Linked DNA regions of Homo sapiens: region 2 is linked to region 1. The links come from fine-mapping of genetic effects on gene expression. A gene starts in region 1. The other region holds a variant in brackets. All regions are shown on one strand. Distances are between the middles of the regions.

Evidence for each region.
Region 2: its variant is fine-mapped to the expression of TRIM9 in whole blood (TOPMed, PIP 0.95).

The regions. Positions count from the first base shown.
Region 1 is chr14:51,091,883-51,097,259 of GRCh38, reverse strand. It overlaps TRIM9 (tripartite motif containing 9), which reads left to right and starts at 2,155. Exons shown (of 13, transcript NM_001387360.1): 1 at 2,155-3,142. The coding sequence starts at 2,321. RefSeq lists a silencer at 2,094-2,163.
Region 2 is chr14:50,959,472-50,964,848 of GRCh38, reverse strand. LOC400212 (a long non-coding RNA gene) reads left to right here and starts at 2,522. Exons shown (of 4, transcript NR_170195.1): 1 at 2,522-3,203. RefSeq lists a silencer at 2,644-2,938. The variant A/G (reference allele first, on the strand shown) is at 2,891.

The DNA.
Region 1 (5,377 bases):
TCCTAAACAAACAGATCTAACAATGAAATCATCTCAAGCGACTTCATAATAGACCAAATCTTTCTATATTGACTATATTATAAACCTGTGTTGTTCTTTTTGCGAACCCAACACTGCATTACACCATGAGACATCCTCTAAAATTCTTCTTTACTTTGAACTAAGCATAAACTTTCTGCTAATAAGATCTCTTAGATGATATACTATTATAAGCAGAGTTCAAACTCATACAAAGTGTAACAGCTGCTCACCTTGCTGGTCCAAGATATTGTGACTTGTGGTCAAATGCATACAAAAGCCATAAAAGGACACTCCTTTCTAATATTTTCTCAATAATTAACTTTCATTACAATTCAATTAATACTATATTGAATATAATTATTAGTAATTTCTCTTGGGACCTATAAATTAAGTGTATCCTGCAAGTGCAGCTAATGTCCCAACCATACCTGAAGAAATTTTATCTATGTCTGTAAACAGAGTGCATATACCTTTGGATGCTCTGGTCTCAACTAGTTGAAAGCCAGCTTAAAAATAAATCACGTCACATTTATGATTAACATGGCTTTAAATAACAATGGGGACTTTATTCCCCCACACAATGATCAACTACTGTTCTCACTGCAACTAAAGATGTTGAAAAGATAACCTAGTTTATTGGACAATTTCTACAAGGGCAGTGTAATAAAATGTCCATTTTTTTTCTGGACAATAAAGTACTTTTAAATTATCAACATAGCTGCATATAATCAAGTTATCTCCTGTCTGGAAGGTGGAAAATTGGAATATTTCTAGAACTTGCAAAGAGTTTTTGTCCTTTACTTCATGAATCATTCAGCAAAAGCCGGCTATGTACTATTTCAAATGTTACTACCTCAGAATGTCACTTGACTCAAAGATTTTCCTTTCCTTTTCTTCTTCCTCCCTCCCTTTCTTCCCTTCCTTCCGCCTTTCCTTTCCCCCCCCCTTCCTTCCTCCCTCTCTCCCTCTTTCCCTTCTTCCCTCCCTCCCTCCCTCCTTGTACAGGGACTAACACTAGAATCACCGCCTCACCATGCCCCTCGTTGGAAGAAACAGAAAGGCACACGATGCTGTAAGCTATGGCAGATGCCCAGGGCACGTGGGGTTGAATAATGCTGTTTGGAGTGAAACACTGAGACTCCGCAGTCACACAGTGATTCATTTACAGAGCTTTACTAAACTACGGGCACTCAGAAATAGACAAACTGTTCTTGCCTCAACCGAACCAAAGGCCCAGCGGGCCTCGAAAAAGCTCAGCCAGGTGCTTTGGGAGGCCGCGAGGAGGAAGAAGGATCCGTGGAAGGAAGCACGTTCACACCACGGCACTGAGGCCTCTGGGCCGAGCTATAATTTAAAGCATGAAACGAAGGGGTCATAGATTCTGACTAATGCTGACCATTTCCATCGGTTACCCAGTTGAATCTCATGTCGACACTAGGAAATCGACTTTATACATGCTCTTTAGGAAACGAGGGACGCAGGATGAAAGAAGCCAAGAGTGTCGCCAGGGCTTGCGCCAGCGCCGTCAGACTCCCGGGATGGGGGAGCTCCAGGGCACGGCGTCAGCGGATTCACGGAGAAGGAGAAAAGCCCCACTGCCGTGCAGAAGCCTAGGCCCGGGTGAGACGCCTGCGAAGGCTGCCAGCAGCGGAAGAGAAGGGGCGTCCTCCGTGCTGCGCAGCACTCGCCCGCGGTAGGTGGGCGCGGAGCTCAGAGCTGGGAGCCAAACGCAAACGCTGGCGAGAAGCCCCAGCCCCCTCCGGCAGCCCACTCGCTGCGGGGAGGGGTTTCTCACGCCCCCAGCTCCTGGGAGACTGCACCGGAGGTCGGAAGTAAGCCGGGCGAGGATGAATCATCCCGCCTAACTCCTCCTTCCCGGTCCCCTAGCCTCCGCACGCCGGCCCCCTTCAGAGATCTTGCAGCCGCGAGCGAAGACTGCCCTATCCTCAGACTCTACCGAACCCCCTGTGGCCTGCGGAGACGAGGAGACGGACGGGTCTGGTGGCCAATGAGAGCTTCGATCTCTTGCCCCCCGCCCAATGGGCCGCTGCTCATGGGCCGGGGCGGGACTAGGAGGGCAGGTAGGGGCGGTCCGGGCTGGCGCGCGGCGCGGCGGCTACGCGGCTGCGGCTCACAGAGCTAGCGCCTCTCTGGGTGTCCGTGCCAGTGCTGCGCGGGAAGGCACCACCACCACAGCCGCCGCCGCTGGCCAGGGTGCTGGACAAGACGGGCCCGTCGGCCACCTCGCCAGCTCAGGCACCCGCTGCAGCCGTCGCTGTCTCCTCCCAGACCGGTCCCCATGGAGGAGATGGAAGAGGAGTTGAAATGCCCCGTGTGCGGCTCCTTCTATCGGGAGCCCATCATCCTGCCCTGCTCTCACAATTTGTGTCAGGCGTGCGCCCGCAACATCCTGGTGCAGACCCCAGAGTCTGAATCCCCCCAGAGCCATCGGGCCGCGGGCTCCGGGGTCTCCGACTATGACTATCTGGACCTGGACAAGATGAGCCTATACAGCGAGGCGGACAGCGGCTATGGCTCCTACGGGGGGTTCGCCAGCGCCCCCACTACCCCGTGCCAGAAGTCCCCCAACGGCGTCCGCGTGTTTCCCCCGGCTATGCCGCCACCGGCCACCCACTTGTCACCGGCCCTGGCCCCGGTGCCCCGCAACTCCTGTATCACCTGCCCCCAGTGTCACCGCAGCCTCATCCTGGATGACCGGGGGCTCCGCGGCTTCCCCAAGAATCGCGTACTGGAAGGGGTAATTGACCGCTACCAGCAGAGCAAAGCCGCGGCCCTCAAGTGCCAGCTCTGCGAGAAGGCGCCCAAGGAAGCCACCGTCATGTGCGAACAGTGCGATGTCTTCTACTGCGATCCGTGCCGCCTGCGCTGCCACCCGCCCCGGGGGCCCCTAGCCAAGCACCGCCTGGTGCCCCCGGCCCAGGGTCGTGTGAGCCGGAGGCTGAGCCCACGCAAGGTCTCCACCTGCACAGACCACGAGCTGGAGAACCACAGCATGTACTGCGTGCAATGCAAGATGCCCGTGTGCTACCAGTGCTTGGAGGAGGGCAAACACTCCAGCCACGAAGTCAAGGCTCTGGGGGCCATGTGGAAACTACATAAGGTGAGTCCTAAGAAAACCCACTCCTAACTCCCTGCGTCTCCGATCATCCGGTTTTGCAGCAGACGGTCCCCGTCTCTTGCGCACAGCGCATCCCAGTGGGGGCGCAATGCAGGTGCCTTCGATGTTTACCTCCCTGGTCTGGTGCATTGCAGGAGGCATGGGGGAATCTTAACCGGCGCACGGGGGAGTTGAATGCCCCCACAGAGTTGTTGCGGGGATGCCTTAGAGCGGGTCTCTCGGGGCGCGCTGCCTGCGAGCGGGACTCAGGGCGCCCCCTTTCCGCGGCGGGTCTGCAGCCAGTGGCCGCGGCCAGTGTGTGGGAAAGCACTGCATAGCTGGGTAGAGCCGCGCCAGTGCCCAGGGCCGCTAGGCACGCTCGAGGGCAGGGCGGGCTGCGAACCCTCGGGGAGGGACTGGGATGGGGGCGGTGGGGTCGCGCGGACGGCGGGAGTCTGTCGCTGCTGGATAGGCGGACCTGGTGAGGCACGGCGGAGGGTCGGGGAGACGCCGCAGGCGGAATACTGATGAGCCCGGCTCTGGGCCAGACCTGGCTCTCGAGCTGGAGAGAACGCGGGGTCCTGGTGCCACGTGCTCAAAAGACAGAGCGGAGAGGGCAGCCAGCGGTCGCCATGGCAACGCGACGTGCAGGCTTGGGCCTGAACCCTTCCGGAGTTGGGACCTGAGACTAGAGTGTCAGGACCGGAGTTTGCGCAGTCGCGGCCTGGAAGCCAGACAGGTGCATCTCCTAGGGAAACCTTCTCCTCCCAACTATACACACACCCACTTCTCCGGAATTCAAGCCCTTTCCTCTTTCAGTAGTTATATGTGCAAACTTTGGGACACCTGTTACCAGATTTATCTTTCCAGTCTCTTTTGATGATATTTCCACCATGGCTAGACACGAAGAGGCTTTAGCAACATATTCTGTCGTGCCACTCCTCTGCTCAAAACCCTCCAATTTTTCCCACGCTTCTCAGCCTGTCCTACATGACCTCTTCCATTTTGGCCCCTTCGACCTCATTGCCTCCCACTTACTCCCTCTGCTCCAGCCACACTGCTTCTTACTGTTCCTCAAACGACGCCAGGCACCTCCCTACTCCAGGGCCTTTGCATTTGGTGTTCATTCAGCCTGAAGCTCTCTTCCCCAGTTACCTGAGATCCGAATGGGTCACTTACCTGCATCCTTCAGCTCTTTGCTCAGGTATCATCTTTGCAGCGCCACCCACCCAGACACCCGCTAGTTCCCTCTCAGCTTTATTTTCCTCAGTAGTATTTATCCCTGTGTGGCATGCTATATATTTTAATTATGTTATTTTTTGTATTTATCTATTGCTCCCTGTACACACACAGACATAAACGAAATAAGCCTCATGAGGAAGAAGATCCTTATAATATGCCCACACTGCTTAGAAGGAAGGGAGCAACTCTTGAGGAGATGTGCATGAATTTGCTTTTCATTTTTTAAATGATCCATTTAGTTGGGGCTGTGGAGTGCAGGGCAGGGATTCAGGATGGTTGGAAGGAGCTTTTCTTTACATCACTGAGTTGCATACCCAAGGATGAGATGGAGCAGTGAAGATAGTGTCCAGGCCTCAGCTGTGGCCTTGCTCAGAGTCTCCCAGAATTCCTTGGAGACTAGAAAGGGTAGCTTTTGCAAGTGGCCAACTGTGGAGTTAAGGCTGGAACATTGATATTTTGTTTACAGCAAGAAAAAAATGTCATTAATTTTCAGCAATCAGTGAAAGTTTTCTCAACTCCTTAACCCGGTTGAATGTGATCCATGTTTACAGTCATTCTATTCTCACATATAACCTATTAAATCATATTAGTACTGATGGGGATTTCATTTAGCACAAATTGAAGCCTAACTGGGCACACACCACTGTTTTCAGAACAGTCGAATTTAAATTTTTGAAAATGACATTTAATTTTGAAAGTTTTCAAAACTTGAGTTCACAGCTAGTTTTTTATTCATATTTTGATTTCACTTTTAAACTGCTAATTATAGTCCATGTTGAATTGCCCTACAAAGTATCCTTGGAACTAAAAAATTAATCACTCTGTCAGGAAAAAGAATTTAGAGCCACAAGGTAATTAGGATGGGTAAACCACAACATTATTATTTTTTTTATGACAAGCCTATCCTTGATCTATTAAGACCAAAAGAAACCTTTAAATCTCTGTCAAGCCCCATGTCAATTTGAAATGTTAAATCATTTGTTTTATTGGCAATAG
Region 2 (5,377 bases), 130 kb after region 1:
CTTGACACGTCTTTCCCAAGAAATGAACACAAGAAATTGCTGCCTCTAAGCTACCAGAAACTGAGCTGGGAATTTTTTTCTGATATAAAGATCTACACAACTGGTTTCAAAATTTTTTTAATTCTTTGAATCTTATTCACCTGAAAATCTGTCTCGTGGACTCTGGGGTCACAAAAACCCAGTTCCCAGCCCAGGTCAATCACTTACTAGATGTGAGCTTAGACAAGGTAATTAACCTTAAACAATAGTTTTAGTTTATCATAAATTAGAGATAATAATATCCATATCCTAAGGTGGTTGTGAGGATTAAGTTAGAAAATATGCTGTGTCTAGTGCAGGAGGAACTCACGGAGATTCCTCTTGTTTAAGCTGTTTATCCTTGCAATGGAGAATGGTCAGTATATAATTAAACATACATTGCTATTACGTTCACAGTGAGGATGTGGAGGGGTAAAATGATTTACAAAGGGTTTTGATTTTGAGTAACTTAAAAAGATTTATAGTCCTTGAATATAGTTCCCACCAATACTTCTTAGGGCAGGTATTAAGAGTAACTGTTACTGTTACTGGAGTGCTCAGTGTGTCAGGCACTATTTGAAGCATTTCATATTTATTAACTCATTTAATTTATACAACAACATCATGTCATTGGATTACCATTATCCCCCATTGTAAAAATTAGGAAACTATAGCAAATAAAGTTTCTGTATTTGCCCAAGGCCACACAGCTGGTAACTGACAGAGCTGGAATTTAAACCCTTACATGTCGGTTCTAGGGCCTTCACTCTTTTTTTTTTTTTTTTTTTTTTTTGAGGCAGAGTCTTACTCCGTCGCTCAGGCCAGAGTGCAGTGGCGCGATCTCAGCTCACTGCAACCTCCACCTCCCAGGTTCAAGCATTCAAGCAGTTCTCCTGCCTCAGCCTACCAAGTAGCTGGGACCACAGACACCCGCCATCATGCCCAACTAATTTTTGTATTTTTAGTAGAGACAGGTTTTCGCCATGCTGGCCAGGCTGGTCTCGAACTCCTGACCTCAGGTGATTCGCCCACCTCAGCCTCCCAAAGTGCTGGGATTACGGGAGTGAGCCACCATACCCAGCCCTGGGGCCTTCACTCTTAACCATACTTTCCACATAGCAGAGAAGCACGAATCCACACATTCCCCAGCGAGCTGCTCCATCCCTTCCGTCCTCATATGCAAAGCTGTTCCACTTGGGATTTGGAGTAACAAATTAAAATTCCAGTTTTGTGTGTATTTTGTGGGTCCTCAAACATAGATTTGAATGATTTTCAAGTTTTAAATTGTGTTTAGCAGTAATTTATGTGAATATGCATTACCTGGAGGCAGAGACCATGTCTTCTTCAATATGACTCCATGCACCTATTGTTCCCTGTAAGCTGTTCCATGTGCACGTGAACAAACCAACCACAACTGCCCATGCACACACCTCTAATACTAAATACTGAGCAATGCTTCTCAGCTCCATCTGCTCACTACACTGGCATGTATGGCTTAAAGAAGATGTTATCAACTGGGATCAAAGAGTGGCTTTGGAGGAGAGGGAAGTCAGTCTTTCTCCCCCATTTGCTGGAATAGATTGAAATGGTTTATGTCCAGGACCTGAAGAAATTTTGATAGAGAACTGGTCTCCCTGCAAGCTGGCCCTGGCCCTCCCAGAGGATCACCAAGATGGTATAAAAGAGACTCTTCTGAGTAGGGTCTTAGTCCCCACCAAGTGTCCTGGAGGACAGTGAACAAGGCCAACCTCAGGCAAAGCTCTCAAGTAAGCCAGGTGCCTCTCTGGCACCCCCTCACTTTACTTTCTGTGCCCGAAAATTCTCACCAGGAATACAGTATCCGAAGTGTGGAAAGCTTCCGATACTGCAGCTTACCCCATGCCTCCAGAGCCATCCTCAGCTCAATCTCTTTTCTGTTTCCTCAATTAAATCTCCCAGTCTTCAATGTTCAGGCCATTGCTGATCAAGGTAATAATCTCTAATACAATTTCTTACAACTTCCCACTAAGAAACCCATTTGAGCTTCTTAAAATTTAGAAGTTTCAATAGCATTAGAAATCCTGTCAACCACTTGACAGGGCATACATGAAAGGGTCATAAATGCAAAGTGGACCCCAAATGCCAAAGGAGCCAAGACACCAAAGAATGAGGCAGACAAATTCAGTCTGTTGATATAAAGTGATTTATTGGGGGCTGGGTATGGTGGCTCATGCCTGTAATCCAGCACTTTGGGAGGCCGAGGTGGGCAGATCACTTGAGGTCAGGAGTTTGAGACCAGCATGGCCAACATGGGGAAACCCCATCTCTATAAAGATAAAAAAATTAGCCGGGCATGATGGCATGTGCCTGTAGTCCCAGCTACTCAGAAGGCTGAAGCAGGAGAATTGCTTGAACCTAGGAGGCGGAGGTGGCAGTGAGCTGAGATCGCACCACTGCTCTCCAGCCTGGGTGATGAAGTGAGACTCTGTCTCAAAAAATAAAAATAAAATAAATTGATTTATTGGGGGGAACTTACAAACAGAAGCTTGGTCTTAGGCAGCTGGCTACAAGACAGGTAAATCTCTGCACTGCAATCGCCCAGACCCAGGATGTGTATCTTGAGGAAAAAGTATCTATACTCTGGAAGGAATATGTAGGTGGCTATAAGCATCACAGCCTATGATTTCTACAACATTATCAAGGGTTGTTTTGAGGGAAACTTACAATGAATAACTGTTCCTACATAAACAGTAATACATCACCTAGACATTTTGGAGGCATTCCCAGACTTGGGGTTAGTCAGCAGATTAGCATTTAAAATAAAGTCACTTATGTCCCTACTAGTGCCTAAAAAGCATTTAGATCAATGTCAGCATAAAGGAGACTGGACTGC[A/G]AAACAGAACTGTGTGCAAAGGGAATTTGTTGAAATAAACAGGCTGCACCCTCTGGGACAGAGAAGCATGGTCACCTGGGAAGGAGAGAAAAGGGAGCTTGGGTCACTCCAGTATCAGCAGCCAGCTCAGAAATGTAGACCTGCACAAAATAATACCCAGGCAGCTATGAGAATATCTGTTGCAGCCAAGAGGGCACCCTGCCTTCTCTTTTCATATCCAGTGAAGACTGTCCCTCTCCGTGACACCATGGCTGGAGGAAGTGGATACACCGTGCCTGCTGCATCTGAGGGCTGAAATGCAAGATCTTCAAAGGTCAGCCATGTTCAGGGCATTTTGCTCACATTCTTGAGGACAAAAATTATGCTTCTCGGTGTAGCAGAACAAAAGAGGGGAGTTGAGAGTAAAATGGCTAGAAGGATGGGAATTTTTAAGTTCCAGCCATTGCTGCATTGAGAACACCAGAAGGGTGTTTTCAGAAAAAAAACTGCTTATTTTCTTCTCCCTGCCTGCTTTTGTTTTTAAAATGTTTTAATGGAACCTCTGATTATGCAAAAGGAAAACTCCAGCCCAGCTCAGCAGAGATGACTGAGATAATGTGGAACTAAATTTTTCTGTGCAGTAATTCATCTTTGTGCAGATAGCATCTGGCAATGGAGGCTGGTTGTTTTCTTCTTTCTTTTTCTTTTTTTTTTGAGACAGAGTCTCGCTCTGTCGCCCAGGCTGGAGTGCAGTGGCGCAATCTTGGCTCATTGCAACCTCTGCCTCCCAGGTTCAAGTGATTCTGGTACCTCAACCTCCTGAGCAACTGGGATTATAGGTGCCCACCACCACACTCAGCTCATTTTTTTGTATTTTTAGTAGAGACGGGGTTTCACCATGTTGGTCAGGCTGGTCTTGAACTCCTGGGCTCAAGCGAGCCACTCGCCTCTGCCTCCCAAAGTGCTTGGATTACAGGCGTGAGCCACTGCACCCGGCCTGGTTGGTTTCATTTTAAGGTACTCCTTTTTGCTCCTGCCAAGCTCAGAGATTGCAGTTGGAGTTCTCAAGACAAGAGGACATGGTAAAAGCCATTCTGCTCCAAAACAATGGTCAGCAGAAACATGGAAGCAGAGTAAGACCCAAGGAAAGAAACAGCCAGTAATGAATTCCCTTGGACAGTGTTTGTCTAATGGACTTTGGGTGCAAGGATGTCTGATATCCAATTTTAAGGCATTTCCTGCTCTGTGAGATTATTCTCTTCCCTTACCTCCCTCCTTGCCAAGTTTTTGAAAAGGCTTCTTTAATTTATATAGACCAATGTCAGTCTTTTTTTAATTTTATTTATTAATTTATTTATTTTTAGATGGAATCTGGCTCTGTCACCCAGGCTGGAGTACAGTGGTGCGATCTCGGCTCACCTGCAACCTCCGCCTCCTGGGTTCAAGCGATTCTTCCGCCTCAGCCTCCTGAGTAGTTGGAACTACAGGTGTGCACCACCACGCCCGGCTAATTTTTGTATTTTTAGTAGACACGGGGTTTCCCCATGTTGGCCAGGCTGGTCTCGAACTCCTGACCTCATGATCTGCCAGCCTTAGCCTCCCAAAGTGCTGGGATTACAGGCATGAGCCACTGCGCCCAGCCTAAACCAGTGTCAGTCTTAAGTGAAAAGTGCTTGTATGATTGAGACTAAGTGATTTGGGGATTGGTGAGTAAGCCAATATGGGCAGAGTTGATTGTGAATAAACCAATGCCCAAACAACACATTTCCTCTAATATTTCTCCTACTCAAAGAGTTATATGCCCAACTTTATCCTAAGGGCCTTTGTGAAAGTAGAGGTAATGACTCATCTGGTAACTTAATTTCCTAGTGGGTCATCATTTCAAGGGCCCCCAAGACCACCCTCATGTTTAGTGATTTGCTAGAAGGATTCAAAGGACTCAGAAGTAAATGTATTCACAGTTACAGTTTCTTGCAGCGAGAGGACACAAAGCAAAACCAGCAAAAGCAAAATCAGATACAAAGCAAAATCAGCTACAAAGCAAAATCAGCACATGGGGCAAAGCCCAAAGGAAACCAGACATAAGCTTCCAGGGTCCTCCCAGTAAAATGGCACAGGATGCACTTAACAGAGCCTACGGTTTTTATTGGGGACTGGTCATAGAAACCCTCTGCCTAGCACATATAAAATTTCAGACTTCCAGCAGGACAGTGGTATTCAGCATAAACCATATTGTTTGTACAAACAGTCTAGGCACAGTAAACCATCCTTATCAATTACGGAATGGTAGGAAGACTCCTGAAAGCCAAGTTCCCAGATGCTAGCCGTGGGTCAACCTTGCAAGTAGGCCTTTCTGAGGTCTGCTGTCTCAGGGCTGCTATGTTAGCTCTTTTTCATTACAGTCACCCAGAGATCCCCCTCTGCAGCTTCTCCATCACCACCACTGACCTTAGAGTTGTTCTGGATTCTGTTGTATAAGTTATGGTCTTGGAGACCCTATAAAGGACT